Linked DNA regions of Homo sapiens. The protein of the gene in region 1 interacts with the protein of each later gene in a pairwise test. Each region holds a gene or a part of one and is shown on either strand. Other genes may lie near its edges.

Region 1 (4,723 bases):
CAACCTGCTGTAAACACCGCCGAGTTAGCAATTCTGCACTGTACACAGAAAACGGTGTTAGGAGTGCCAATCTCATGTTATATGACTTTTGCCACCATAAAAAGAAAAAAAGAAAAAAAAGAGCCCCAAGAAGGTCACCCTCCTTGTCTGCATGGCCGGAAGTCTTACATGTCTTGGGAGTTTGTGGGGAGGGGGTGAAATCGGGACTTCTTCTAGCTGCCACGGTAGGGCCTGGGAGCACTGGGAGCCAAAAGGGGGCTGGAGCGGAGGTTCCTCAACATCAAATCCAGAAAAACAGGGTGGGGACACGGCAGGGCCCAGCAGCACCATCCCCTGAACACCCACAAACACTGTCCCTTCCTCAGCAGGTGGAGCCATCTGCTGTCCTCTGCTCCCATGTGGCCCTCTTCATACCTAAAGATGGGACCAGGATCTGTGCTGGAGAACAGTCTTATCTCCCTCCCTCTACCCTGTCCTGGCACAATCAACGAACACTTTTTTTTTTTAAAGACAGAGTTTCACTCTTGTCGCCCAGGCTGGAGTACAATGGCACAATCTCAGCTCACTGCAGCCTCCGCCTCCTGGGTTCAAGTGATTCTCCTGCCTCAGCCTCCCAAGTAGCTGGGATTACAGGCACACACCACCATGCCCAGCTAATTTTTGTATTTTTAGTACAGATAGGGTTTCACCATGTTGGTCAGGCTGGTCTCAAACTCCTGACCTCAGGTGATCCACCTGCCTCAGCTTCCCAAAGTGCTGGGATTACCGGCGTGAGCCACCGCACCTGGCCGTCAACACACAATTAAATCTTAAACACAAACCTGCATATTGGCTGACCACGTGCACCTGCAAAACCCTTACCTCCCACCCCCAGGAAGAGGGGGTTCTCGTCCCCACCTCTCATTCCCACCCTTGAAATTGCGAAGAGGATTATAGGTAACCTGCAGGCACCCTCGCCAGAGCGTCTGTGCTTCCAGACACTTCTCCCCATTGCCGGCAACCCGGCTCCACTGCCGCGCCCAGCCTCCTCTGTTCACTGCTCTGGCCTCGGCGCCTGGAAACCGCGTGTCCATCAAAACGTGAAGGTGAACCTCGTAAGTTTATGCAAACTGGACAGGAGGGAGAGCAGAGGCAGAGATCACCGTGTCCACTCGACGTCCTGAGCGAAAAGCCACGTGTGCCCACGTGACGATGGAGACAGGAGGACCAGGGCTCTGCCTGCCCCCTTTTCTGAGCCCCTACTGCATTCAGCTCTGGGGCCTGGGCCCTCGACGGCCACCACCTCCTCACCTGGGCTCCTGCGCAGCCAAGCGCAGTCCCGCACGCTCATCTTCCACGTCAGCTCCTGCAGCGAGAGCTTGGCATGCTTCCCCAGGGAGATGAACTTCTTGGTGTTCCTGAGGAAGCGGCGTTCGTTGTGCCTGGAGCCCCAGAGGCCTGGGGGCACCAGCCGGCGCAGGCAGGCCCGCACGAAGCCGTACACCTGCCAGGGGCTGCTGTGCTGGCGGAGCAGCTGCACCAGGCGACGGGGGTCTGTGTCCTCCTCCTCGGGGGCCGCCACAGAGCCCTGGGGCTTCTCCCGGGCACAGACACCGGCTGCTGGGGTGACCGCAGCTCGCAGCGGGCAGTGCGTCTTGAGGAGCACCCCGTAGGGGCACTGCGCGTGGTTCCCAAGCAGCTCCAGAAACAGGGGCCGCATTTGCCAGTAGCGCTGGGGCAGGCGGGGCAACCTGCGGGGAGTCCCTGGCATCCAGGGCCTGGAACCCAGAAAGATGGTCTCCACGAGCCTCCGAGCGCCAGTCAGGCTGGGCCTCAGAGAGCTGAGTAGGAAGGAGGGCCGCAGCTGCTCCTTGTCGCCTGAGGAGTAGAGGAAGTGCTTGGTCTCGGCGTACACCGGGGGACAAGGCGTGTCCCAGGGACGTGGTGGCCGCGATGTGGATGGGGGGCCCGCGTGGTGCTGGCGGCCCACGGATGGGTGGGAGTGGCGCGTGCCAGAGAGCGCACCCTCCAAAGAGGTGGCTTCTTCGGCGGGTCTGGCAGGTGACACCACACAGAAACCACGGTCACTCGGTCCACGCGTCCTGCCCGGGTGGGCCCAGGACCCCTGCCCAACGGGCGTCCGCTCCGGCTCAGGGGCAGCGCCACGCCTGGGCCTCTTGGGCAACGGCAGACTTCGGCTGGCACTGCCCCCGCGCCTCCTCGCACCCGGGGCTGGCAGGCCCAGGGGGACCCCGGCCTCCCTGACGCTATGGTTCCAGGCCCGTTCGCATCCCAGACGCCTTCGGGGTCCACTAGCGTGTGGCGGGGGCCGGGCCTGAGTGGCAGCGCCGAGCTGGTACAGCGGCGGCCCGCACACCTGGTAGGCGCAGCTGGGAGCCACCAGCACAAAGAGCGCGCAGCGTGCCAGCAGGTGAACCAGCACGTCGTCGCCCACGCGGCGCAGCAGCAGCCCCCACGCCCCGCTCCCCCGCAGTGCGTCGGTCACCGTGTTGGGCAGGTAGCTGCGCACGCTGGTGGTGAAGGCCTCGGGGGGGCCCCCGCGGGCCCCGTCCAGCAGCGCGAAGCCGAAGGCCAGCACGTTCTTCGCGCCGCGCTCGCACAGCCTCTGCAGCACTCGGGCCACCAGCTCCTTCAGGCAGGACACCTGCGGGGGAAGCGCCCTGAGTCGCCTGCGCTGCTCTCCGCATGTCGCTGGTTCCCCCCGGCCGCCCTCAACCCCAGCCGGACGCCGACCCCGGGGAGGCCCACCTGGCGGAAGGAGGGGGCGGCGGGGGGCGGCCGTGCGTCCCAGGGCACGCACACCAGGCACTGGGCCACCAGCGCGCGGAAAGCCGCCGGGTCCCCGCGCTGCACCAGCCGCCAGCCCTGGGGCCCCAGGCGCCGCACGAACGTGGCCAGCGGCAGCACCTCGCGGTAGTGGCTGCGCAGCAGGGAGCGCACGGCTCGGCAGCGGGGAGCGCGCGGCATCGCGGGGGTGGCCGGGGCCAGGGCTTCCCACGTGCGCAGCAGGACGCAGCGCTGCCTGAAACTCGCGCCGCGAGGAGAGGGCGGGGCCGCGGAAAGGAAGGGGAGGGGCTGGGAGGGCCCGGAGGGGGCTGGGCCGGGGACCCGGGAGGGGTCGGGACGGGGCGGGGTCCGCGCGGAGGAGGCGGAGCTGGAAGGTGAAGGGGCAGGACGGGTGCCCGGGTCCCCAGTCCCTCCGCCACGTGGGAAGCGCGGTCCTGGGCGTCTGTGCCCGCGAATCCACTGGGAGCCCGGCCTGGCCCCGACAGCGCAGCTGCTCCGGGCGGACCCGGGGGTCTGGGCCGCGCTTCCCCGCCCGCGCGCCGCTCGCGCTCCCAGGGTGCAGGGACGCCAGCGAGGGCCCCAGCGGAGAGAGGTCGAATCGGCCTAGGCTGTGGGGTAACCCGAGGGAGGGGCCATGATGTGGAGGCCCTGGGAACAGGTGCGTGCGGCGACCCTTTGGCCGCTGGCCTGATCCGGAGACCCAGGGCTGCCTCCAGGTCCGGACGCGGGGCGTCGGGCTCCGGGCACCACGAATGCCGGACGTGAAGGGGAGGACGGAGGCGCGTAGACGCGGCTGGGGACGAACCCGAGGACGCATTGCTCCCTGGACGGGCACGCGGGACCTCCCGGAGTGCCTCCCTGCAACACTTCCCCGCGACTTGGGCTCCTTGACACAGGCCCGTCATTTCTCTTTGCAGGTTCTCAGGCGGCGAGGGGTCCCCACCATGAGCAAACCACCCCAAATCTGTTAATCACCCACCGGGGCGGTCCCGTCGAGAAAGGGTGGGAAATGGAGCCAGGCGCTCCTGCTGGCCGCGCACCGGGCGCCTCACACCAGCCACAACGGCCTTGACCCTGGGCCCCGGCACTCTGTCTGGCAGATGAGGCCAACATCTGGTCACATCCCGCCCGCACAGGGTGGAGGGCAACCTCGGGGTCCAGGCACCTGGCTCCAAGCCTCGGACTGCAGAGCTAGGAGGCCCGACTTCCAGCCCAGCAGTAGAAGCCACACGGCCACTGGTCCCCTCCAGACCTGGGGCCCCGGCACAACCGCAGGACAGCTGAGGACTTCCCAGGAATCCAGACTCCGGGTTGCTCAAGTTTGGATCTAAGGGGCGAGAAACTTCTGGGTCTCCCGAGGCCTTGCAGGGATGCTGTAGCTGAGGTCGGCAAACACTGAAATGCTAACAAACGCAACCTTAAATGTAACCTTTCCTACTTTCAGAAACTGCCGGAGGAAATTGCTTTATTTATGGAGCTAGCATTTGAACAGGCCTCGCACCCTCCCTGGGCTGTCACGCTCGCTGGAGGTTAGCCTCGTCTTGTAAATACTTAGGATTACAGGTCGCTCTTCTAGAAATCCCCTTAGTGATCCCTAAGCCTTTTTAAAGGGCTGTGTTTGTGAATTGTCTCTGCCACTAGGGCAAAGGGGCGGTTTGGAAAATTTGTTCCAACAAAAGTTAAGTTGTAGCTTACACTGGTTCTCTGCAGAGAAGCCAACATAGAAAACACAATTTTAAAAGAGGGAAGAGAAGAAATGGAAGCAGAAGATTATGCTGGAGTAATTAACACCATGTGCATGGCGAGGAAACGCCTCCCGGCATTCAATGAAGATCGCTGATACCCAGAAGACACCCCAGTATTATGGGTGCAGTTAGTGTGTCTTTGAAAAGCTGATGATGTCTTAGTCATCACAGTGTAAAACATCAAGAGTGTT
Region 2 (4,108 bases), on another chromosome or scaffold:
GAGTGTGTACTTTTCCCGCTATGTACTAGGCCCTTAATTCATGAAGCGCGAAATATGAGACAGATTCCTAAAACTCACACAATTTTGAAGAATGTATTTACCATCTGGTTCCCTATGGCCCTCAACCATTTTCACATGCTTATCTCAAGTCAGATTCCAAAGTATGCGGAGGGCAGCTGCTAATGACATATTTGTTAGTTTTAATTTTATTCTGCAGACATTATGCAGTTCTATAATATAAAATGAATACAATACTAAAATCTATTTCCTTTATTTACATGGTGTAACATTTCCAATAACAAACATTTCTAATCATGAAAGATGGTGTTAAAGCAGAAATATTGTCATGATTGAGTCAATGGGAGAACATAAAATATGCTGTATTTCATAATTTTTCCGTAAGAAAATGTCTAGTTTGTTTAAATGCAACAAATACTGTATTAGATTCACTTTATAAGCCATACACTCCTTCTTGTCTTTCTTTTGAACACATTCTGGAAGGCAGCTGTGAAGAACGGAGTAGCGAGTCCACGCCATTCAACATCCATCAGAAACCCTATTTTAATCATCTTGGGATCGATTATCTTCAATGATAATAGTTCTTCTAGGATAAGATTCAATTTCTACAAATATATATCGAAAATCATATTCACCACTTCCTGGGTTCTGAAAAAAATGTAGTGTTTCCAGGTATTATTTTCCTTTCCAGAACTTAAATAACACCGCGCTCAGAACCTCTGACCCCACATCCCATGATTCCCACACCTCTTTCACTTGCGCATACACCGTTCCTTGCTTCCCTGGCTCAGAGCCCTCAATGTAGAATTTCACACACGTGTGTTTCAGCCCATCTTTTACATATTCAGTGAACCTGTCGAGAAAACGAAAGATCAGTCTAAGTTCCTTTCATTTAAAAATCTCCCCAGAGCCTCCTCTGAATTCAAGCCACAGTACCTGACATGCTGCCGGCGACCCCGCCTTGTCACCTCCCCATAGCCTTTAACAGACTCACCAAAGACACCGATCACCTGCAGAACAAGGACAGTGCTTTATTTTGTGTTATTTTTTTAAGCTTCTAAAGAAATAATTTTTAACAAACCAGATGATTTTAGGAAAAAAAAATCAGTAAGCTTAGGACCTTTTCAAAAATGACCACTCCTGGCTCACGCCTATAATCCCAGCAATCTGGGAGGCCAAGATGGGTGGATCACAAGGTCAGGAGTTCAAGACTAGCCTGGCCAACTAGGTGAAACCCCGTCTCTACTAAAAAATATAAAAATCAGCTGGGCATGGTGATGCGCATCTGTAGTCCCAGCTACTCAGGAAGCTGAGGCAGGAGAATCGCTTGAACCCAGTAGGCAGAGGCTGCAGTGAGCCAAGATCGTGCCACTGAACTCCAGCCTGGGTGACAGAGCGAGACTCCGTCTCAAAACAAACAAACAAACAAACAAATAAAAAAATGACCACTCCAATAAGAAAACTGAAAAAAGGGTTATTATACAAAAATCATCCCATAAATAATTTAAACAAATATTTCATGCACAAAGATTAAAATAGGTAGCTTTATGGTGTGACTTGTAGTTTCAAAGCAATGTAGGTTGACATGACGCAGTTCCTGCTCCTCTTACAGAAAACAAACATAACAACACAGAGTTCAGATGTTTCTCTACTAACCCCTTATGGTTTGAAGATAAAATGTATGAACATTTTTAATGAAATGTAATTAATTAATAGCATCTAATACTAAAACTATGAGATCAAAAAATTTTTAAAGTTACCAAACACAGTGAGGAAAAAGAAAACAGATAATGACATTTAAAATAAATCAGAGCTACAGGTGTGAATCTACTATTTCTAATGAGAAAATCCACATGAAGTAGAAATGTAGTTTTTATTGAATTCAAAATGCAAATACTGTGGAACCCTCTAAAAAATATAAATTTGATATTAAACTAAAAAAGTTTGACCCTCAACTCTACGAAATTTATCTTATTTTGTCTGTTTGTGGAGTATCTTCAGTATCACATTTTCCAGGATAAAAAGAAGTAATATGTAAGATGATATTGCAGAATTGTATAGCACAAACAAATAGAACAATTTACTTTAATCTATTAAACATATAAATATCAACATCCATCAAGATTTTGTTTTTCAAGCAGACACAGTACCCAGCAAAGAGAAGGGTACCCCTTAAAAAATGTTGACAAAATTGTTAAAGTTTAATTATTATTTGTAGAGTTTTTTCAGGCAGCAAATGAAGTTACGACTTCAATAATATCCCACTTTTGTATATTCTTGTGGAGTTTTTTGTTCAAAATGCTGAAAAATCTACGAAAGGCTGAGTTTGCGAATAAAACAGCAACTCTTCATCTCTTTCCAGAGATGCGTCCTAACATTTAATGAGGTTACCACCCACAGGTATTTCCGGAGTCTGTAAAGAATGTTTCTTGTCAGATAAAATTTGGATTCCCAGTAACTATTATGGGAACGAACCTTCCTTATTTCCTGGTTTTCACCTCTGAGATACTTTATCCTCCCTGCCTTTCTCCATGGTTACCACTGGCTGTCCAGAGCTCAATGAAGAGAAATCAGTGGATTTAAAAGGAAAGATGCCAGAGATCGTTAGCTTCTGAGGTTTCCACCCTGACATGATTAGAAAACTGGTAGAACATTCAGAGCCGGGGCCCCAGGGAAGATCAGCACCGGGCTCTATACTGAGCACGCTGTGGATTGAAATCTTTCTCCTCTTCAGGGGCTGCAAATGCGAGCTATGACATTACTCCTTGGTCTGTGTGAAGAACAGCCCTAATATTTATGATGATAATGGCAGACGATTACCTGCTGTTATCTTTCAGGGTGAATGAAGTTGTATTTCAATGAGTAATATTTTCAGTGCTGAAGGTCTGCAGCAGGGAGTAAGAAATCTGACACTTCCCAGGCCACACCGGCTACGTGTGACTGGAAGGTCACATCTAAAGCCTTCCTTCTTGACAGGGTCCTTCAAAGAACCAAGGCAGCTTCCCCATGTCCACTCCTCCCAGGGAAGGGTAGAGGCAGACTGTGCTTAAGAGCTTAGATTTGGAAGCAAATTTTGGATTTGTGTGGATTCGGGTTCCGGTTCCCCCACTTACTAGCTCAGTGATCCTGGTGAAGTTACTTAATCTCTTTAAGTGTCAGTCTCCCCTTCTGCAAACTGAAGACAAAGTAGTGCCGAACACAAATGGTTTTTGTGAGACTGAATAAAGATGATGCACTGAGACCCTGGGCAGAGTGCTTGCACGGACACATTTTCGGTAAGTGTCAGCAATGACATTATGACCATGAGGTCATGCATCAGGCTTTAAAAAGACTAGAAACTTACCATGAGTTCAATATTTTGGTGTATTCTAAAAATTTAGTATCTATGAACAACCAGCAAAATGACTGTCTTGTACAATTAGCATGAAAACATCTGTACACTGACTTTTGGGTTCTCTTAAAGAGCAAAGACCTAATAATGTAATGATGACTCGACCATTATGTATTATTATGTGAATTTCACTAGCGTGAGAACTGGTTCTTGAATTCTGCCCACTTCCTCCTCCCAGACATTTTCTCCCCCTCATCAGAGTTCATGTAACTCAATCTTGAGAACTAACCTCAGGATGTGATCTGCATTTTTCTAAGGCTCTCCCATATATCTTGCTAGGACTGGATGAAGAAAAAAGTTCTTTGAAAATCGTGTAAAACAAGCCACCTGAAATCACAGAAAACAAAGATGAAGCGAAGCAAGGGCAACATAAAAAGTCCAGTTTAAAAAATATTCAAGGGCTTATACTTGCTGTTTTTTGCAACCTGTAATGCTGATTCCAAAAAGCACCACTATTAAATAGGTAAAATCTCTTCCGGCTTCTTTCACTGTGAAGAGAAAACACCAATGGGTTACGGGTGCCGGCTGGGAGCAGGCAAGCTTGTCTGCTGCTTTTGCACTTCTTGCGAGAGAAAAGCAGCCTCCAGATCAAAGCAAGGGGTCTGTGTGTGTTCAGGGGCAGCTGTTTTGAAAACTCCCTGTGTGTCAGCGCCTCAGCAGAATTCTCAGAGCAGGGCTTGGGAATCTATGTTTTAATTT
Region 3 (4,108 bases), on another chromosome or scaffold:
TAGTTCTTGTGCAATGGTTTCTATTTTCTTTATAAAATAAAATAGGTAGTGAGCATACCAGCCAAGAGGCAGGGAGCAGGGATAGAGTGGTTTTCTGAGGAAGAACGTGGAAAAGCTCTAAAATAGCCACTACTGAAGAACTGACCAGGAGCAGAGAGAATGTGGAACAGCTGAGGCTGGAGACCATGAATATGCAGTGGACCAACCTGCAAGACTGATTTTTCCTAGTAGCACCCAGCAGTCTACAAGTACAGAGAAGGCAGGAACATTGATCCAAGGCTGGATGGATGGAAGGAAAAACAAGGCAAAAGCTCACAATAATGGCAACAAAGTCGTTAAAATGATGTATCATGGTGTGCCTATGTTGGATAAGAGAGAAAAGGCAGGAAATGGCGAAAAGACAGGGAGAAAAAAGGTTTGGAATCAGATCCTAACATACAGAATTAAGATGACAAATAATAGGACCAACTGGGAGCTAGATGAATAGGAGGCAGGGGCAAAAGAACAGAAAGTGTGAATTAAAGATTTTAGTGGCAGAGCAAATCCCGGTGATAGTAAGGCCCAGGCTAAGGCTACATGGAAGACTGGCTAAAGTGGTGTGGGCTGAAAGTCAAAGGAGAGTCAAAAGAGGTAGAGAAAACAAGAGGTTATAGTTTTTGGTGAGACATGCTCTTTAGTCCCATAGCCACTTAGGACAATAACTAGGAAAGGAAAATGTGTGAGATAAACCATATGGTTTATGAATCTACATAACTATGATACATAAAACTACACAGACTTGACCATATAGGATTGGCCCATTTACTGGCCAATACAAAATATTTTAATCTAAATTTGGCAAGTATTTTATACATGGATGCTATGCTGTTAAATATCAGGCCAAGAGTTGTGATATCAAGGTAGAAGGAGAGTCAAGAAGGTATTCTTACGAGACTGCATGCTTAAATGCATCATAGGCACCATATCCAGGTCTCTTGTACTTGTCATCAAAGACCCAGGCAGTCCTCTGGAATAGGCTTTCCAGCTGCTCATCCTTGGTGTATTCTAACACCTCAGCAACATGACGAAGAATGCTATAAACCTAGAAATAAAATGAAAAGCTCAACAATTCAAAGATAAGAGATTTATAAAAAATGTTTTTACATTTTAGTAAATAACATAATTTGGCTACAATAATTCCTTAACAATAAAAGATCTCCATAGGGAAATACTCACTTTAAGTGGGTATAAAAAGTAGAGATAGTATACAATTTAGGGTCCTAAGACCTGGATCAAGTCTTGACAGTAACACAGTATCTCTGAACTTGTTTCCTCCTCTGGAAAAAGAAGAAACTAGCATCTCTCCTTACTACAGAGTGCTCGCATAGATCAAATATATAGAAACCACACACTATAAATGGAAAACGGCTATACAAATACAAGTTGTTATTATTACTCCCTGAGGAGAGAATCACGATAAAAAAAATTTTTTTTCTGTCATCTTACCCACCTGCCAAACTTTTTCTTACCTCCTAAAATTAACAGGGTGTAGACAAAAAGTATTAAGGTCTTCATCATAGTTACACATAAAAATTGAGTGAGAAAAGGTACTGACACTGAATAACTCTTCCATTTTAACATCTCAATAAGATCTATTAACACACTCATTTTAACAATATCCTAAGGAGACAAAAAAATATGAAATTTTCCCAGAAAAGTGCTTCTCAAAAGTTAGTAGGACCTGAGAGTCTGTATTTCTAAAAAAACAGGTGATGTCAATGCTGCTAGTTTAGAGACTACATTCTAAGTGGTAAGGTCCTAGAGTTTATTAAGAAGATATTTTACTGACAGTGTTTTCAAATGTGTAAACCACACTGCATAACTGTAAATACATCAGTAAAACAAAGGAAATGATTTGGGTAACTGATGGCTTTTAGACCTTTATTTTCTCTCTTACTGGGATTAAGCAAGATTTTTTAAAATCTCTTCATTGAAACTTTTTTTTTTTTTTGATATTTTATCTTGAGGACAGAAACACTCATGGCAGAAAAGAACAGACACCAGAGAAGGGCAAAGAAAACAGAAGCAATACAAACAGTACCACTAAGAACTGAGGATAGGCTGGGCACACTGGCTTACGCCTGTAATCTCAAACATTCCGGGAGGCAGAGGCGAGAGGATCGCTTGAGCCCAGGAGGAGGTGGTTGCAGTAAGTTGAGATTGCGCCACTACACTCCAGTCTGGGAAAGACTTTGTGACACACACACACACACACACACACACACACACACACACACACACACACACAGAACTGAGGATGTAGAGGATGAAGGATAACTTAAACAGGACCTGAGAAAAGAGAAATACTGACAGAAGAAATTAAATGGCTATCTTTGCTTTGCTGCTGCTTACTGTGGATGACAAGCAGGAAGTAATAGCAAAAATAAGAATGCAAAAAGAAATAATCCTAACACGCTAGTGGAGGGGGAAAAAAACCAAAACTAGTAACAGGCCTCTGCCTTGCTTTCCTGGATTCACAGACATTTTATAAACCCCTGTTCATTCTTAACATATAACAGCTGGTTGTCTCCGTTACCCTCATCCCAGAACAGGGTTGAAAATCAAGAACTGTATTTTGGCCAAGTGCATTGGCTCACTTCTGTAATCCCAGCACTTTGGAGGGCTGAGGCTCAAGGATCACTTGAAGCTCAGGGTCTGAGACCAACCTGGACAAAATAGAAAGACCTCATTTCTATTTAAACAAACAAAAAAACCCCGTATTTTATGAGGCATTCCAACTGTAAACAAGTTAAAGCAGTTGAAGTCACCCACAGTTAATTTAACCTAAAACGGCTTCAAAACACTTCTAGTACTAATTTGAGAATATTAGATCATAAGCAATACTTTAAGGTAGTAGCAGTATGAAATTAAGATTTCAAATTATTTATTAAACACACAGATAGTGGACTAATTTGACTCAAAGATCAACTTACAGTTTTGGATTTTGTGAATTTGTCTTCACATTTGATTGCTTCCTCTGGAGAAACTCTTCTTTTTGACAAATCAATATATCCTGTACAAAAAAATTGTGAAAAAATCATCTCTGTCCAGATGCCACTGTACTATTGTAACCAGCTTTGAAGACCAAATTAAGTGTTTGATTGGCATACTTATAATTATTTCCTACTAAAATCCTATCAACAAAATACTGCATAAGTATTACAAGGCTGAGTATCCCTCATCAGAAATGCTTGGGACCAAAAGTGTTTTGGATTTCAGATTTTGGAATATTTGCAATGTATTTACTAGTTAGAGCATCCCGAATCTGAAAATCCAAAATCTGAAATGCTCCAATGAACATTTCCTTTGAGTGTCATGTTGGTGCTCAAAAGTTTCAGATTTTGGAGCATTTTGGATTTGGGGATAAGGGATACTCAATCTGTACAAGATGAGAGATTCTGAATTGTTTTCAGAAATAAATTTTTATTATCAGGTAATTATATATATTCCATTACCTTACTGGAGAGAACTAATAATTTTCAATTATCCAAATGAAAGGTAGTCAAATGCCTATCTTTCCCCTATTTCTTCCTTTTCCTTCTCCAGAATAGGAAAATTCACTAAGATGTTCATTTAGTTTAAGGAAAGAGGCTATCGTCACAGAAGACACACACACACACACACACACACACACACACTGAACAAATTAAAACTATCTAATCTACTGTATGACTACCATATACAAGTAACTATGTTAGGTGCTTAAACATCTTCTTGAACCCTCACAACAATCCTGCATGGTAGATTATCACTCTCTTTCCCACAGCGCCCCCCAGTCTTTTTAACCTGAAGAAACTAAAACCCATGAAAGGTTAAGTAACTTGTCAACGTCAAATAGCCAAAAATGGCTGAAACCTACAAACCTGTGCCTGGCAATGACTTCCAGTACAATGCTGAGTAACAGTGGTGAGAGTGAATGTCTTGTTCTCAATACTGGAGGACAGCATGTCTGTGGTGTTTTTCTAGACACTCTTTATCAGATTAGGAAATTCCCTTTTAGTTCTTGTTTGCTGACTTATTATGAATGGGTGACAAATTTTGTCAAATGCCCTTTCACATCTATTAAATT
Region 4 (4,108 bases), on another chromosome or scaffold:
GGCTAAGGATTGCTAGTCATTAGGTAATCATGGAACTGAGAACCACTATTCTTGTAAGTTAGATTAACAAACCAGTTCCCACTAGATACTTAATAACTTATTCTCCCCACTTATTCATCTGGGATGCTTCAACGAGTTACTTTGTTTAATCCCATCACTATATACAAGTGACAGCCAAACTTCTAGATGAAGGGGGCAGCTGATACTGTGGGACATCTGGAATGTACAGCTCTGTTCAAGCCCCGAGGAAAAATGACAATCCTACCACAGGAGCATTCTTTGTACTTTAGGGCAAATATTCAGGCCCAGGAACAGAAGGAAGGAAAACAACGCTTTCTTGGTTCACTGGCTATGCTAATCTACCAGAACCTATTAAATAAAGTTAAACTGAAAAAGGAGTATAAAATAGCCAACCCATGTCACATACATTTGTTTGATCATCAAAAGCATCTAGGTGTATGCAGGAAAAAAACCAACTCTGCTCTTGGGCTGGGCATGGTGGCTCACGCCTGTAATCCTAGCACTTTGGGAGGCTGAGGTGGGCGGATCACCTGAGGTCAGTAGTTTGAGATCAGCCTGGCCAACGTGGAAAAACCCTGTCTCTGCTAAAAATACAAAAATTAGCCAGGCGTGGGGGCGGGCACCTGTAATCCCAGCTACTGGGAAGAATGAGGTTGCAGTGAGCTGAGATCACGCCACTGCACTCCAGCCTGGGTGACAAAGCGAGACTCTGTGTCAAAAACAAAAAACAAAACCAACTCTGCTCTTGGGCTCCACTCTGGACTTACTGAAACAAAATCTAAGGGTGTGGGGGTTATGAGTGGATTCTGACAATCATCTGAGGTTGGGAACCACTACCCTAGATATCAAAATAATAAATGCCATAACAACATACGGATGTTTAATTTTTCCACCACCTTCCATTTCTAAGACAAAAGTTATCTTTTGCCAATAGTGGATAGCCAAAAGCTAATAAGCTTAAGATTGACTTTTCATATGTGTCAAAATATCTTGCAGTTCTTGCTGACATAAATTTGAGACACATAGTGAAAGATGACAAAATATGAACATGCCAGCTTTTTTTCTTAGGAACTCTATACAGAGATATGTCTTCTCTGAGGGACATGGCAGCAAATATGGTTGAGTATTAATCCCAAGTCAGTGTAAGTGGTATTGTTTGAGTAGAACCTGTAGGCTTACACTGAAGGATCTCTGAGATGGCAGGTCAGTAACAGGTTATCCTCCTCCTCCTCTCTTGGAACCCACCTCAGAAAACAATTTAGTTATTCAAAAAAGGGCTAAACAATCTGAAATCTATACCCTAGGGCAGGCTTTTCCTTACAGTGGGAGGTTATATGTAGGTGGGATATATCAAAGTTACTGAGCACCAAATTTTATTTTTCTAAGTAAGGCACCTAATTGGTTCCCTGTTCCCCCAGAGAATGACAGGAACTATTAAAATTCAGCATCGTGTGTGGTTCCTAGGAGTGCATCCAGCAAAAAGCTCTTTGTTCTACTTCTAAATCAAATATTTTAAGCCAAGACTATACATGTTTATGGACTTCCAAATTTTTTCCATCTAGCATTTTACCAATCTAATTATAAGTCTTTATTTTGCTAATACTCACCTGAGCAAGAGGAATATTAATTTGACTTCCTGAGACTATGCGTTTAACTCACAGTGAAGAGAGCACTTGATTTCAGAGAGACTTGGATTCACACCCTGGCTGTCACTTACTGATTTGGAACCTTGTAAGACAACCTCCCTAAGCCTCAATTTTCTCATTCACAAAGAAGTCTCCCTTACTGGAGACGTGGGAAGACTGAATGTGTGTAAAACAACCAGCAAGGAGCTGCGATACCACCTTCTCCATACAGCCTTCTCTGTTTCACCCCAGGATTTCTCCCATCTCATAATTTCTTTTATCTTGTCAGGATCACGTAATTCTTCTGTTATTTTCTGTGTTGATTTCTAAACTCTCAAAGGAACAATAAGATATAATTACTGTGTGTTGATTTTTTAAATCTCAAATGGACACTAAGATATGATTACTTCCTCCATGGAGTTTACACGGTCTTGGTTTTTCTATTGTGTCTAGGACAGTTCTTCATAAAGATTTTTTATTTAAACTGATTACCAATCTTCTTTTCTCTACAGGTGACCTTGGTTTGGCCACTTTTTCAGGACTCTGAATGCCAAAGAAGACTTACCTCCAGAAATATTATAGAACCAGTTTGTTTTACTATAAACTTACCAATACCCATGATAGAGGGATCACATCCAGATACAAAGTAGCCCACAATTCTTGCCAGTGGTGTGAAGTTATGTTTCTTAACAGCATCTTCACTAGCTATGATAACAGCTCCAGCACCATCAGCTACACCCTTGAAAATAAAAATACTAGATTAACTAAAGGCTAAAATAATCCAGTTAATCAAAGTTTGAACTAATGGACTAGTAGTATTAGGAATATGGCAGTACATAGGAAGCCAGTGCACAGTGTGAGATACAATTAGAAAAGTGGTACTGTGGTGGATGAAGGAGATTTTTTAAGGCACAGAATACAACTTTACTAAAGAACAAGGAAAAGGGTGTCAAGGAAAAACTTTTATCTAGATGTGAGTAGATGTAAGAAGAAATACGATAAACTGTATGCATGAGAAAAAAAAAAGTTTGAAAACCAAAATAAGCCAGATAGATTTGTTTCTGAAATTTCTTAGTTCTGAAAAAATTAAGAAATCAGAAGAGTATTATATAAATAAATATGAAAAGATTTTGTGTGGGTCTATGAAAACCTAAATTAATTGAATATGAACACTATTAGTTTAAGCTAAACAACTAAAGACTGGCATAAAAAGTATTTACAAGATACTTCATGATTACTTTTGTTGAACACACCAGGAAGAATTCAAGCTAATCTGTGTGGTGATACCAACCGATGCATTCCCTGCAGTAACAGTTCCATCTTTCTTGAATACTGGAGGAAGTTTCTGTAACTGTTCCAGGGTGGTTTGGGGCCGAGCATGCTCGTCTACCTGCATTGTCTGTTTTCCTTTCTTTGTCTTCACTTCAATTGGTGCCATTTCATCATTAAAGTAGCCAGCATCATTAGCTGAAAAATAGTAGAGAGACTATCATAAGAATAAAAGAGAGAAACATGAAAATAAATCAAACATATTATTCAATTTAATTTCTGATCTACCTTTTCCTCACAGTCTACTTTAATATTGAGTCTTTATTAATTTTTGAGATGGAGTCTCACATTGTCGCCTGGGCTGGAGTGCAACGGCACAGTCTCGGCTCACTGCAACCTCTGCCTCCCGGGTTCAAGTGATTCTCCTGCCTCAGCCTCCCCAGTAGCTGGGATTATAGGTGCCCACCACCATGCCCGGCTAATTTTTTTTATATTTTTAGTAGAGATGGGGTTTCTCCATGTTGGCCATGCTAGCCTCGAACTCACCACCTCGTGATCCACCCTCCTTGACCTCCCAAAGTGCTGGGATTACAGATATGAGCCACCACGCTCAGCCTGAGTCTTTACTATTTACTTACACAACTTACCTTCCGTATTGGAGGATTTACGATACCATCATGTGTTTATGTAGTTGCATTTTGCATCTTTTAAAAATTATAGAGTCTTTACTATTTACTTACACAACTTACCTTCCGTATTGGAGGATTTACGATACTGTCATGTGTTTATGTAGATGCATTTTGCATCTTTTAAAAATTATATTTTTAAAAATTATATTTTTTTAACCACAATTTTTTTTCACCAGGTACTGCTAAGACTGTTAGCAGCATCTGTCTGTTTGCTATAGATGTAATGGCAATAAATGGACTTAATACCCCTTTTAAACTTCTTTTGGTGAGATAAGCAATTAAAAAGTTACCAAGTTGTCTATGCCACAAAGTAATCTAACTGAAACTTAATAGTGATAGGCAACCTGAAGAAATTATGGGAGCAATCACTAATACAATTATAAGTAAAACATCTTACCTACTTTGACCTCCACTGACTAGAATGTACTGTAGTAATCTATAGCTTTGGAAATAGGGTCAGGAATAATACTAACCTTAATTTTCATATCACTTTACAATTGGCAA
Region 5 (4,108 bases), on another chromosome or scaffold:
ATTCTCCCTGTGAAAAGGTTTTCAAGTTTTATACCTGGTAGAGAGCTGATATTACATAAAAGTATTTTAAATTTATGATTTTAATTGAGAAAATTAACCTTGTAATCTTTTAGAGAAAGATTATTCAAGGATGAGGGTACCCTAGTTTCCTATGTAACTAAGCAACTTGGTAGAGACCAGGAATTCAGTGTTTGCTAATTAGAGACAAGTAAGGAATATGGAATTCATACTTATGAACTCTTAAATGATCATTTATCAGTAATACAATCTAGAACTGGCTTTACGAATACTAAAATACACATTTCTTAAAAACACTACCTTGTTTAAAAACTACCCTCTTATGTAAAATCCTCAGCCTATCTTCTCCTAAACCACATTTTTAATTTCCATAATTCCCACAATATGTAACTCTTAATAACATACAAGAAGGTAATCCTCTAGGATGTCTGTCAGCAACCAGGGTTCAAATTTTGGAATATAAAAGAACTGTTCCTCTATGCTTTGTTTCAGCAACTAGCACTTAGAGCAAATCAAAACAATAGCCGTGTTTCTACAAATCCTAAAATCCTTATACTCCAATTTTCAAACCAACCTGTATATGGAAAGGAGGCCATGGATTCACTACTAATAGAACTATCCACAAACACACACTGGTTTCATTATTTAATACTAAACCATTTATTTCCAAATATAATTCTCAGGTCTTAACTATAGAATATGATCCTTTCCTCTTTTTACAGAAACAAAGCACAGGCCTAAGGATCCATTATTTTAGTATAATCTCAATCTGCAATTGTCACCAAACAAGTCATTTGCTATTTGGGGAGCCCTGCTTCTTTCCAAAGATAGCAGGTGATTCAGTTAGCCTTAGAGCTCAAATATCTCCCTGGATGCTGCCCTTTACTGTTTGACAAATGCTATCTTAAAAGTTCCTCCAGTTACATCTATGCTGCAAAAAAAAAACAAAAAACTTCCTAGAGCAAGTTTATATTGAATTGACAGGATCTTGGGATCTTGGGTACTGAGTCCACCTAGTCATTTTACAGATGAGAAATCTAAGAATATAAAAAAAGTCCTGCTTACCCATATGTTATGACACAGCCAGGAATAGAACTTAGCATACCTTTTATCATATCATGGAGGCATGACACCTACCTTTCAGGAATTACTGCAAGGATTAAATAAAAACCAAACAGAAGCTCTGGAAGCTATATATAAGTTAGTTCATCAAAGTCAGCCAATGTTGTGTTTCTTAAATTTATACTTCCATATGCTATGCCCAGATTCTCCCCTAGTCTGGAATAAGATTACAGACAGTTCTAATGTGATGGATAATTATTTTCTTTAAACCAAACACCCTCAGTTTCGCTCCTGGGCACTGAGCTAAGGATTTGCTACCAATAGCCTATCAATACATTAGTACCTTTTGGTAAACAGTTATAATCTTTGCATATCACTGAGTGATTGAACATGGGCTCTATTAAACAGTTGTGGTTGGACACGGTGGCTCACACCTGTAATCCCAGCATTTTGGGAGGCCAAGGCGGGAGGATCACTTGAGGCCAGGAGTTCAAGACCAGCCTGGCCAACATGGTGTAACCATGTCTCTACTGAAAATACAAAAATTAGCCAGGCATGGTGGAGCATGCCTGTAGTCCCAGTACTCGGGAGGCTGAGGCAGGAGAATCGCTTGAACTTCAGAATGGCCAAAATCGCGCCACTGCACTCTAGCATGGGAGACAGGAGACTGTGTCTCAAAGAAACAAAAAAAAGTTGTGTTGACCACTATGAGAAACTTAACGTTGCATAGGGTTCATTTGTTAAGGCACCAATCACAACTTCATTGTTTATCATGCAAAATTATGATTCCATTATAGTTTTGCATAAATTTTTATTACCAAGTTCAAAACATCACCCAATACCATGTATTTTTATCTACTCCCTCCAATAGTATATCATTTTTCCTTATCCCAACAAATCCACGGAATATGATATTCCCATCATTAACAGTGCTCACCATAAGAGCAAATTCTTTCTGAAGAAAAGAAAAAGTTTAAGGTGCGGCAGCTCACGCCTGTAATCCCAGCACTTTGGGAGGCCAAGGAGGGCAGATCACCTGAGGTCAGAGTTCGAGATCAGCCTGACCAACATGGAGAAACCCATCTCTACTAAAAATACAAAATTAGCCGGGCGTGGTGGCACATGCCTGTAATCCCAGCTACTCAGGAGCTGAGGCAGGAGAATTGCTTGAACCCTGGAGGCAGAGGTTGCAGTGAGCCGAGATCACGCCATTGCACTCCAGCACAGGCAACAAGAGCAAAACTCCATCTCAAAAAAAAAAAAGAAAAAAGAAAAAGTTTAGAAAACATCTGCCCCTCCCACCCCCCAACTAACTTGAATATGCTTCTGGTTAGGAATCACTGTCCTAAATAACCTGTAATCCAAGACTTTAAACCACAATACTGTAACAAATAACTGGCAAAGTAAACATGATTTTAGGTCAGGCGTGGTGGCTCATGCCCGTAATCCCAGCACTTTGGAAGGCCAAGGCGGATGCATCACCTGAGGTCAGGAGTTCGAGACCAGCCTGGCCAACATGGTGAAATCCTGTCTCTACTAAAAATACAAAAAATTAGCTGGGCGTGGTGATGCATGCCTGTAATCCCAGTTACTCGGGAGGGTGAGGCAGGAGAATCGTTTGAACCCAGGGGGCGGAGGTTGCAGTGAGCCAAGATAGCGCCACTGTTACTTCAGCCTGGGCAACAGAGCGAGAATGTCTCCAAACAAAACAAAACAAAACAAAACAAAACAAAACAAAACAAAACACCATGTAATTTTAAAAGCTAGTGAAGGGCTGGGTGTGGTGGCTCACACCTGTAATCCCAGCACTTTGGGAGGCCAAGGAGGGTGGATCACCGAGGTCAGGAGTTCGAGACCAGCCTGGCCAGCTGGTCTAAAAAATATAAAAAATTAGCCAGGCATGGTGGCGGGTGCCTGTAATCCCAGCTACTCCAGAGGCTGAGGCAGGAGAATCGCGTGAACCCGGGAGGCGGAGGTTGCAGTGAGCCGACAGTGCCACTACACTCCAGCCTAAGCAACAAGAGTGAACTCCATCTCACACACACAAAAAAAAAAGTTAGTGAAGGGCTGGGCAAGGTGGCTCACGCCTGTAATCCCAGCACTTTGGGAGGCCAAGGTGGGTGGCTTGCCTGAGCTCAGGAGTTGAAGACCAGCCTGGGCAAAATGGTGAAACCCTGTCTCTACTAAAAATACAAAAATTAGCCGGGCCTGGTGGCAGGCACCTATAGTCCCAGCTACTTAGGAGGCTGACGTGGAAGGATCATTTGAGCCCAGGAGGCGGAGGGTGCAGTGAGCCAAGATCACTCCACTGCACTCCAGCCTCGGCAACAGAATGAAATCTTGTCTCAAAAAAAGAAAAAAAAAAAAAAAGATAGTGAATAACATACTCTGATCTTTGCTCTCTTCATACATTTAAAAACAGGCCAGTAATGCTATGTTCCAAATTCTACATTGGAAATAACTTCAAGATAGAACTAATGTTAAAATGGCCACATTTTCTAGTTTTAACTATCTCAAAGTAAAATTTGTACAGTTGTATGACAATGGTAAAATGACTAATCAAACAGAAATAACCACATTAAAATATTCTATTTTTCAAAGCGTTAGAGTCAAATATATACACATAAACCACTCTTTTAAGGGCTGGGTGCAGTGGCTCATGCCTGTAATCCCAGCACTTTGGGAGGCCAAGGCAGGAGGAACGCTTGAGCCCAGGAATTGGAGACCTGCCTAGGCAATATAGTGAGACCCTGTCTCTATTAAAAAAAGAAAAAAAAAGCATTCTTTCAAATACTCTTTGAGGGATGAGGGTACAGTAAGTCTCCCTTGTCAAAAACAAAAAGCCATCAAGTAACAGCATTAAATCTATGGGTTATCTTATTGGTAAAACTCCAGTGCTTTCAATTCTGGGTCATTACTATTACACGCAATACCACTTACTTATTTTCAGTGTCTGCCACTGGATGATGTTCTTCACCTTCAGGTGTTTCCTCAGTCACATTTGATTGATCCAAGTCACTGTAATTAT
Region 6 (3,978 bases), on another chromosome or scaffold:
GTCTCAATGAAAACACATGGGGGCAAACCTAAATTATCACTGAGTTTCACTAACATCCAGAGACTGCATGATGTTCTAGTGCTAGTCTTACTGACATAAACATATGATGACAGAAGACAAAAATGTGCTTGTAATGGTCACATCATAAACGTTTTAGGTTTTATTAAGGAAAAAAATCATAATTTAATATACTGTTTCAAGAATTCATTAAAATCATACCTTTAGACAGAAAAATTCATTTTCCTTTCTCTTGGGAATGTTTAGAATATTCACAGAGATAGCAACCCGATAGTTCTTCAAATGCTGCACTTTTGATTGATTAAAGTGTTTATGTATTATTAAAGGATATTGTAATTTCAAAGTTTCTAAAGGCATTTTTTTTCCAAAGATAGAGATCAAAAGCAAAACACTGAGTTAGAGTTACAAATCTCCACTCATAGATATGGGAATAATATATTTTGTTCCATCAACATGTCTACTTTGCATTATTCAGCACAAAGCTTTGTGAAATAAGAATCATGGGAATATAAGAATATAAAGAAAAAAGGTACAAATAACAGCTTCATAAACTGAGAAATGTACATAAATAAATCATGTATATGTGGGCAGTTTGCTTAGCTGGCAAGAAACAAAATATGGAAAATCTGCTTGTTAAACAATAACTACAGAGTGTGCTTTTATGATGTTTTTCACCACAGTAATTCATATTAGAGATAGAAGCAGTTGCATGTTAAATAAAATCATTGAGCATTGTTCCCCTTGCATTGCAAAGAGCTGACTTGTGTTGTTTTTAGATGCCTCCCATTAGAAAGTAAATATTCCTTCAATGCTATGCATTTCACAAAATTTAATAAAGATGAACTGTAAATAAAGTCACAGGGAGATTTCAGACAGTTTTATTAGGAGATTGTTGAAAAGGAAAAGAAAATTAAATACAATAACAGTAAACGTGGTTCTCACATTGAAACCAGGCTCAAATAACTAGGCTACCATAGAAAAATTTCCAATTCTTGCATTATGATGTAAAAACAGATTTTTGTACAGATTTTGTACAACAAAATTCGTAATAACCTTTTATCATTTTTAGAAAACTTTAAATATATAGATAAAAATAGACAATTTTCATAGGTCCTACATGAAGATGAGTATGTTCTGTTCCAAGGGCTTGCATAGAGCGCAAATGTGGTTATAATATAGAACAACTAGACATTAATATTTTTAGGATTACAAAAGCATGGAAACCATAAAATGGGCACATTTTACTTGTTTATGCCAAAACACAAATTTCCAAACCAACCTGTATAACTAAAACAGGGAAAAAATTAAGTTACAGACTTACAATAACATTTCATGAATTGTAATATTTACAACATGTTAGTAAGAGTCTCTCTTAACATACAGCTGATAGCTTTTTTCTTTAATCCTTGCTAAAATTTCCTTTTATTTCAAATCAAACACTAAAGCATTCTCAAAGGTCTTCAAATATGTATTTTAAAACTATTTAATCCACATAACAAACAGGTGACTCTATGCCAGGAGCAGAGCAATGGCTGATTCTACTACATATGTAAGTTGTAGGCTTTTTTAAAAATCTTTCAAAAAATGTATGATGCAAAAAGCTTGACACAAGTCCATTCAATTTTAAGTGTTGTAATCCTTTAAAGACTGCATATAGGGAAACAAACACATAGAACTAGGAAAAGAATCCCTTGTGCTCAAACAACAAAAGGTGGTTATGGAAGAACTATGCTTAGAAAACCAAGTTTCTACAAATCATTTACTAGCAATACTTTAAATAAAAATAATGCTCCCTTTGTAAGCAAGCTAAAATAGGAACTGTACATATAACCTTTTTATGGTATTAAAAAGATGAACTTAGCTGGCTAATAGTGAGCTACACAAAAGAATTATGTTCCAGTATTGCAAGGAAGACCTAAAAGGTATAGAAGCGTAATGCCAGAGTATCTATAATGTTAATTTTTTCTTAATCAAGTAATTAATACCCAATCAGAACTATATTTAAACATTTTAAGCTAGTTTTCTTAGACATTGAAGATTTTGCTGTTTTGTGGTAATAAATAATGTTACGATCATACAATTTTAAGATGACAGAAAAATCATAAAATGTATAGTGACCGTACTGATTCATATCAGTCTTTAAAGGTGTAATTCCAGATATGCAAAAAACAAAGAGAAGGTAACTTTAGCATGTAATAAGCACTGTTTGCCGCTTTACTTCCAGTTATCTGCACGAAAGTGAAAACACATACTGTAACTTTCAAAAAGACAGTGAAAATAACACATAGCCACCCTTCCCTCTGACAAGGGTGGGAAGCACAGCACATTTTAACTTTATCACTCAGCGCTACATGGTATTGGACTGGTACATCAAGGTTTGTTAGGTTTTGTTTTCAGCAACATTAACATAATATGACGTTAACATATAAAAATATTTCTGGTGTTTTGATTTGCTGTTCAGCCACAATCCATTCCCAATAGTGCAGCTTGGGGCACTAGCTAGGGTTCAATATACAAATAAAAGTGGCTGACACAGAGTTCTGATGTCACCAGATGCTTAAGATCTCATTCATTAATACTGTGACTCCAGACAAATATTTACATGCCTGCATGCGTTAAAACCAGAAAGACATCTTTCTGACCAACAGGGTGACAAAACATATTTTCTAAAATTTTCATTTTCCTAAACTCTAGTATACTACTGCATACATAATACCTTCCTTGTGTGTTTTATGTTTATATACTGTACATATGACCAACAGTTTGAATAAGAAGCAACATTATTATCTTTAATTCTACATACCACTACCAGTTTGGAATGAAAACATGTTACACTTATATATTTTTTTTTATTTTTAAGAAAAAAAAACCTTCAGTGAAAGCTTTTGGCTTATATTCAATGCTTCTTTTCAGATATGCAAAATGTTATTTCATTGGGTTGTTGTCAACATCCATTTGTTGGTCTTTTGGAAAGTATGTGAAAAAAAATTCTTCAGGAGAAAACCCACAATTAGAGAGTTTGAAATTGAATGTAACAGAAAATCACTCTTGCATTTTTTTTTTTCAAGAATCCTCTATGCCCCCTACAAGTTCATTCGTTCATTCCAAGTGTTCTTGCTGGTTTCTGGAGGACATAATTCTGTAAGTCTGGGTAACCACTGCTACAAGAGTCTCTTGATGTGCTCAGATACAGAATTTTCAGAAGAGGAAAATGGTTCATTCCATTAGAAAAAAACAAAGCTAGGTCTTATTCAGACCTGCCTTTAACTCTGTATACAATTGTCCAGCAGCAAGTTGCAGTAATTAACTGTAAGAACTTTGATACTTGTACATTTACAAACATTCTCAGGTCTCTGGTATGAACCACAGGTGAAAATCAATGGAGAAAACTTTTTTTTTTTTTGTAGAATACTTAAACTTTTAAAGAACATTAATACACAAAATTCAGGAAGTTCCCTTAAAAGGACTTTATTTTTTTCTGAACTTTCCCATGACGAATGTCTGACTGCAAAGTTCTTTTCTATAACATGGATTTCTTCAACAGGAAAGATTCAGTACATGACAGTAGTTTTCAAATACAGTCTTCCATCTAGAAATGAACAGTGAAAAATTAATTAATGGCATGGTATTTGGGGTACAAATGTGCATGTAAAAATGATGTAACTTGATATAAAATTTGTAGTTTTTATTAGATCTTTACTTGGTTAAGAAGTAACATTTTTCATATCTTCTCAAAGTTAAGTTAATTTCATAATTACACTGAGTTTATGTGACTGAAAAGAATACAGCATTTCTACTTCTCATAAATATATATTTGCTATTTTGATATCAGTTCCAGAGCACTCAGAAAATAGCTAAGAGTATGTGTGTGTATTTTACTGATATGCAAAGTTAGTTGATTTCTGTTGAATAACAATTACTTCCTTCAAGCTTGCAGAACCAAATTTTCTCTGAATGCAC
Region 7 (4,108 bases), on another chromosome or scaffold:
CTAGCAATCCCTCATTTTACAGATGATGAAACTGAGACACAGAGTTTGAGTAACTTTCTCAAGGTGACATTGCTGGTAAGAGGCAAAGCAAAAAATAGGACCATGAAGTCAATATCTTCATTAAAAAATTTATGAAAGATTAGAATAAATGAATATAGTGACCAAATAGTCAAAATGGTCTGGAATCACTCTCTCTTTGCAATGATTAAGATAATCCAAATGAGAATATTTCAGTTAACAAAATCCATCTCATTACAGGATACTGGCAACTGCATCAAATCTACATTTTGCTTGCAAATGTTCATCCAGTATGAAAGAGAGAATAAAAATATTAGGATAAAATAATTTTTTTAAGTGAGGAGATAGGCAGTCACACATTCTTTTGTGACACAAACCAGTTCTACAGTAGAATAATGAAGGCATTGTTCAGCAGTTTGAAGGTTTGATTTATAAAACTAGGTGTTAACTGATTGGCAATCAACCAATAGAAGGTAAATTGCTAAACTAGTCTGCATGTGCAGATGCTAGTAAGAAATTTTCAAAGGCACAGCTGCACTTTTATACAAAGTTCCCTGATCATCTACAGGTACTTCCCCACATGTGGTCATGACCTTTGATGACACCCATTCAGGATATCAGTCGCCAGTTTGTTTATAAAATGATTCAGATGTACTTAATTAGATTATTCAGAGTTTCTGTGGGAGTGCAGGAATGTCCTGTATTTCTTGTCCCTTTCTCCCATAACTTCTACCTCCCTACAAAGGCCTAAATGCTCTGCTTTTGATGGAGGCGTGCAACTTCAGATAAGCTCCGGTAAGAATATAGGTGTTTTTGATAGGCTAAAATGGAAAGCACAAATTTCTGAAACCCCAGGAAAAAGGTGCAAACTCTACATACACTGTGCAATCTGCATGAAATCCACCATAGGAGAATTGAGTAGTGATTAAGTCTGGTTTGAAAATTCTGCATCAAATTCACAGAGTTTTACTTTCAACCCATTTGGGTGAAAGAAATAATGTCCTTACAACATCTCTTCCACTTCTTTCCTTCTTTCTTACTCTTCTCCATTGGTTACTCTTTAATCATTCAGCATCTTCCTTTTTATTTATCTCACACTGTGCCTGGGACACAGAGTAAACTTTTGTACTTCCAGCCCCTTCATCCCACCCTTTTAATATAGTTCAACGAATATTTATAAATTTCCTAGACTGTGGTAGTTAGTGCTTTTCTGAGCACTGAAGATACATCATTGAACAATAGACACACACAAACACACACACATACACACACACACACACACACGCGCATGCATGCACCAAAAAAAATAAAAGATTAACTGAAAGCTTAAACTACATATTGGAAAAGAAACATTTTTGAGAAAAATTCAATACTGAAAGAAAAGATATTCTTCAAAAGTATAAAAAACAACCTAGATTATTGCAGGAGATCATACAAACTGGTTTGTTTTTTATTTAAATTCTACAGCCACATGGTTCATAACAGTATTTCAGTTTAGTTTTAACTTGCATTTTTTTTTAGTTTTGGGTAATATTAAGAATATTTTACTGTGTTTAGAAGTCTTTTATATATTTCCTTAGGATAAACTATCAGCTCATATTCTTTGCCCAATTTTCTAATGGGCAATTGTTTTTTTCTCATTGATTTATATGAGTTGAAAAATATTTTTTCCAGTTCGTTGATTATCTTCATTATGACATTGCTTAGCGGTTTTGCATTGCAGAAGTTATTTATTTTTATGCAATCACATTTGTCCAACTATTTGTTAATGGTTTAATGATGTAGGAAGAGGACCTTCCCCTCTAAGATTATAAAAGAATGTTCCATGGTTTCTTCTAGTTCTGTTCTAGTTTCATTTTTCTAAAAATAAATCTTTAGCTGGGCACAGTGGCTCATGCCTGTAATCCCAGGACTTTGGGAGGCTGAGGTGGGCGGATCACCTGACATCAGGAGTTCGAGACCAGCCTGACCAACATGGAGAAACCCTGTCTCTACTAAAAATACAAAATTAGCCAGGCATGGTGGCACATGCCTATAATCCCAGCTACTCTGGAGGCTGAGGCAGGAGAATCACTTGAACCTGGGAGGCGGAGGTTGCAGTGAGCCAAGATCACAGCATTGCACTCCAGCCTGGGCAACGAGAACGAAACTCTGTCTCACAAAATAAATAAATAAAATAAATCTTTAATTTATTTTGAATTTACCTTGGGGTGGAGTATAAGGTATAAATTTATTTTTTTCTTTCAGGTAACTCTTGAGTTGCCCCAACGTTGAAACCACCTTTGCAAAAATTCTAACTGAAGAAATTATGACAGTGAAAGAGATCAGAACTAACTGACTCCATCTGGCTTCTAACCTTTAAGCTGTCCTTGTTCATTCCTGGTTGCAGGCAGAACTAACCTTGGGAAGGAATTTAGTTTATGGTTTGGCTCTGAAACAAAATTGATAATGTCCCTTTTCCCAAAAAGACCCACTTCTTGCCTGGGGACCAGTCTGCCTTTGTAGGACTAACAGATTAACTACAGGATTAGATATTACATTTTAGGGGTCATGCAGCCTCTGGCTACAAGAGTCTGACCTTCCCCAGATTGCTCCTATGGATAGCATTACTATTATAAAACCTAAGATCAGTGCTTGAGATATTTTGCAGACCCTGCACTGGATGGATCAGCTGACACCACCCAGATTGGTAATCTGGCTTAACCACTTCTGCGATCCCCTCTATAATTCTATCTCCAACCTGACCAATCAGCACTTCCCACTTTCGAGCTCCTATTTTAATTTAAATTATCTTTAAGAACTCTGATCTTCGTGCTCTGGGAAACTGATTTGTGTAATAATAATACTCGTGTCTCCCATACAGCCAGCTCTGCCTGAATTACTCCTTCTCCATTGCAATCCCCCTGTCATGATAAATTGGCTCTGTCTAGGCAGCAGGCAAGGTGAATCCATTGGGCAGTTACAAATTTGGGGGCTCGACCAGGATTGCCTTTGTTGTTACCTGCTCTGTAGCCCACCTCTGGTGATGGATCTGGAGGCCAACCCAAGTGGCCACCTAGTTCTCTTGGACTAGGGGCTGACTCTGGCACTCTCTGCCAGTGGGGTGCTGCTGACCCAATGTGCATGGATTCAATTGCAGTGGAGAAGTAATGCTAGGGAGATATCTCATAACTGTAGCCTCATCACTGGGTGTCTGTAGCTGTAGCCTCAATGCAAGGTGTCTGATTTGGTGAGTATTCCAGGCAGCTACCAACAGCCCCTTCCTTCTCCTGATTTATTGGCCTCTCTGGAGGTGCTGCTGTCTCTTAGTAACCTCCCAGGGTGTCTGTCTGTAGCCCTATCACAAGGTATCTGCCTGTAGCTCCATTACAAGGTGTCTGTAGCTGTAGCCCCATTACAGAGTGTCTGTCTGTAGCCCCATTAGGGGTTGTCTAATTGGATGGAGACTAAGGAACTTGTTTGGAGGACTACTCTTGGTTTGAGACTGGGTCTGGAATCTGTGTCTTGAAGGCCTTCTGTTCATCTTACATTGTTTGCGTGTGTGTGTGTGTGTGTGTGTGTGTGTGTGTGTGTGTGTGTGTTTATATGTATGGAGGGCCCTGAAGGAATTGCTCACAGCAGTTTTCTGGGGGCAGGGGACAGAGTCTCACTCTGTTGCCCAGGCTGGAGTGCAGTGGTGCAATCTCAGCTCACTACAATCTCCACCTCCCAAGTTCAAGCAATTATCATGCCTCAGCCTCAGAGTAGCTGGGACTATAGGCGTGCGCCTCCATGCCCAGCCCTGAGTTATCATTTTGGGTAAATGAATGACTTATGGTGACACGGGACTCTATTTTGTGATATCCAGTGTTTTAAATCTTTGATATTTGACAAACCTTCCAAGATCAAATTATAAGTTTAAAAAAAAAAATTAGATATCCTGAAGTTCAAAAAGATATATTAGGCTTATTTAATGTATTAAAATCATGCAGGAAACATTGTCAAATATAAAATGGTGTTTAACTTTCTTTGAGTTATACTCATATAAATATGTTATTAGTATGTGTTATAAAATTGTATAAGATTTCTATAATTCTAATATGCCTCAGTA

Evidence for each region.
Region 2: the proteins of TERT (region 1) and TIMM21 interact in a two-hybrid assay, tested with the Homo sapiens proteins (one study listed by BioGRID).
Region 3: the proteins of TERT (region 1) and EIF2S1 interact in a two-hybrid assay, tested with the Homo sapiens proteins (one study listed by BioGRID).
Region 4: the proteins of TERT (region 1) and ACAA2 interact in a two-hybrid assay, tested with the Homo sapiens proteins (one study listed by BioGRID).
Region 5: the proteins of TERT (region 1) and SERBP1 interact in a two-hybrid assay, tested with the Homo sapiens proteins (one study listed by BioGRID).
Region 6: the proteins of TERT (region 1) and DACH1 come close enough for resonance energy transfer, tested with the Homo sapiens proteins (one large-scale study listed by BioGRID).
Region 7: the proteins of TERT (region 1) and STEAP4 interact in a two-hybrid assay, tested with the Homo sapiens proteins (one study listed by BioGRID).

What each region holds. Positions count from the first base shown.
Region 1 is NC_000005.10:1,292,023-1,296,745, forward strand, and holds the start of TERT (telomerase reverse transcriptase), read right to left. Parts: upstream 3,047-4,723; 5' UTR 2,968-3,046; coding exon 2,749-2,967; intron 2,645-2,748; coding exon 1,291-2,644; intron 1-1,290. UniProt on the Homo sapiens protein: Telomerase is a ribonucleoprotein enzyme essential for the replication of chromosome termini in most eukaryotes. Active in progenitor and cancer cells. Inactive, or very low activity, in normal somatic cells.
Region 2 is NC_000018.10:74,154,934-74,159,041, reverse strand, and holds part of TIMM21 (mitochondrial import inner membrane translocase subunit Tim21 precursor), read right to left. Parts: intron 3,898-4,108; coding exon 3,835-3,897; coding exon of another isoform or gene 3,818-3,834; intron 3,737-3,817; coding exon 3,639-3,736; intron 1,029-3,638; coding exon 955-1,028; intron 872-954; coding exon 766-871; intron 667-765; coding exon 562-666; 3' UTR 1-561. UniProt on the Homo sapiens protein: Participates in the translocation of transit peptide-containing proteins across the mitochondrial inner membrane.
Region 3 is NC_000014.9:67,373,412-67,377,519, reverse strand, and holds part of EIF2S1 (eukaryotic translation initiation factor 2 subunit 1), read right to left. Parts: intron 3,053-4,108; coding exon 2,973-3,052; intron 1,082-2,972; coding exon 930-1,081; intron 1-929. UniProt on the Homo sapiens protein: Member of the eIF2 complex that functions in the early steps of protein synthesis by forming a ternary complex with GTP and initiator tRNA. This complex binds to a 40S ribosomal subunit, followed by mRNA binding to form a 43S pre-initiation complex (43S PIC).
Region 4 is NC_000018.10:49,789,215-49,793,322, forward strand, and holds part of ACAA2 (3-ketoacyl-CoA thiolase, mitochondrial), read right to left. Parts: intron 3,114-4,108; coding exon 2,938-3,113; intron 2,386-2,937; coding exon 2,256-2,385; intron 1-2,255. UniProt on the Homo sapiens protein: In the production of energy from fats, this is one of the enzymes that catalyzes the last step of the mitochondrial beta-oxidation pathway, an aerobic process breaking down fatty acids into acetyl-CoA.
Region 5 is NC_000001.11:67,420,180-67,424,287, forward strand, and holds part of SERBP1 (SERPINE1 mRNA-binding protein 1), read right to left. Parts: coding exon of another isoform or gene 4,099-4,108; coding exon 4,021-4,098; intron 8-4,020; coding exon 1-7. UniProt on the Homo sapiens protein: Ribosome-binding protein that promotes ribosome hibernation, a process during which ribosomes are stabilized in an inactive state and preserved from proteasomal degradation.
Region 6 is NC_000013.11:71,437,086-71,441,063, forward strand, and holds the end of DACH1 (dachshund homolog 1), read right to left. Parts: intron 3,608-3,978; coding exon 3,570-3,607; 3' UTR 881-3,569; downstream 1-880. UniProt on the Homo sapiens protein: Transcription factor that is involved in regulation of organogenesis. Seems to be a regulator of SIX1, SIX6 and probably SIX5.
Region 7 is NC_000007.14:88,286,256-88,290,363, reverse strand, and holds part of STEAP4 (metalloreductase STEAP4), read left to right. Parts: intron 1-4,108.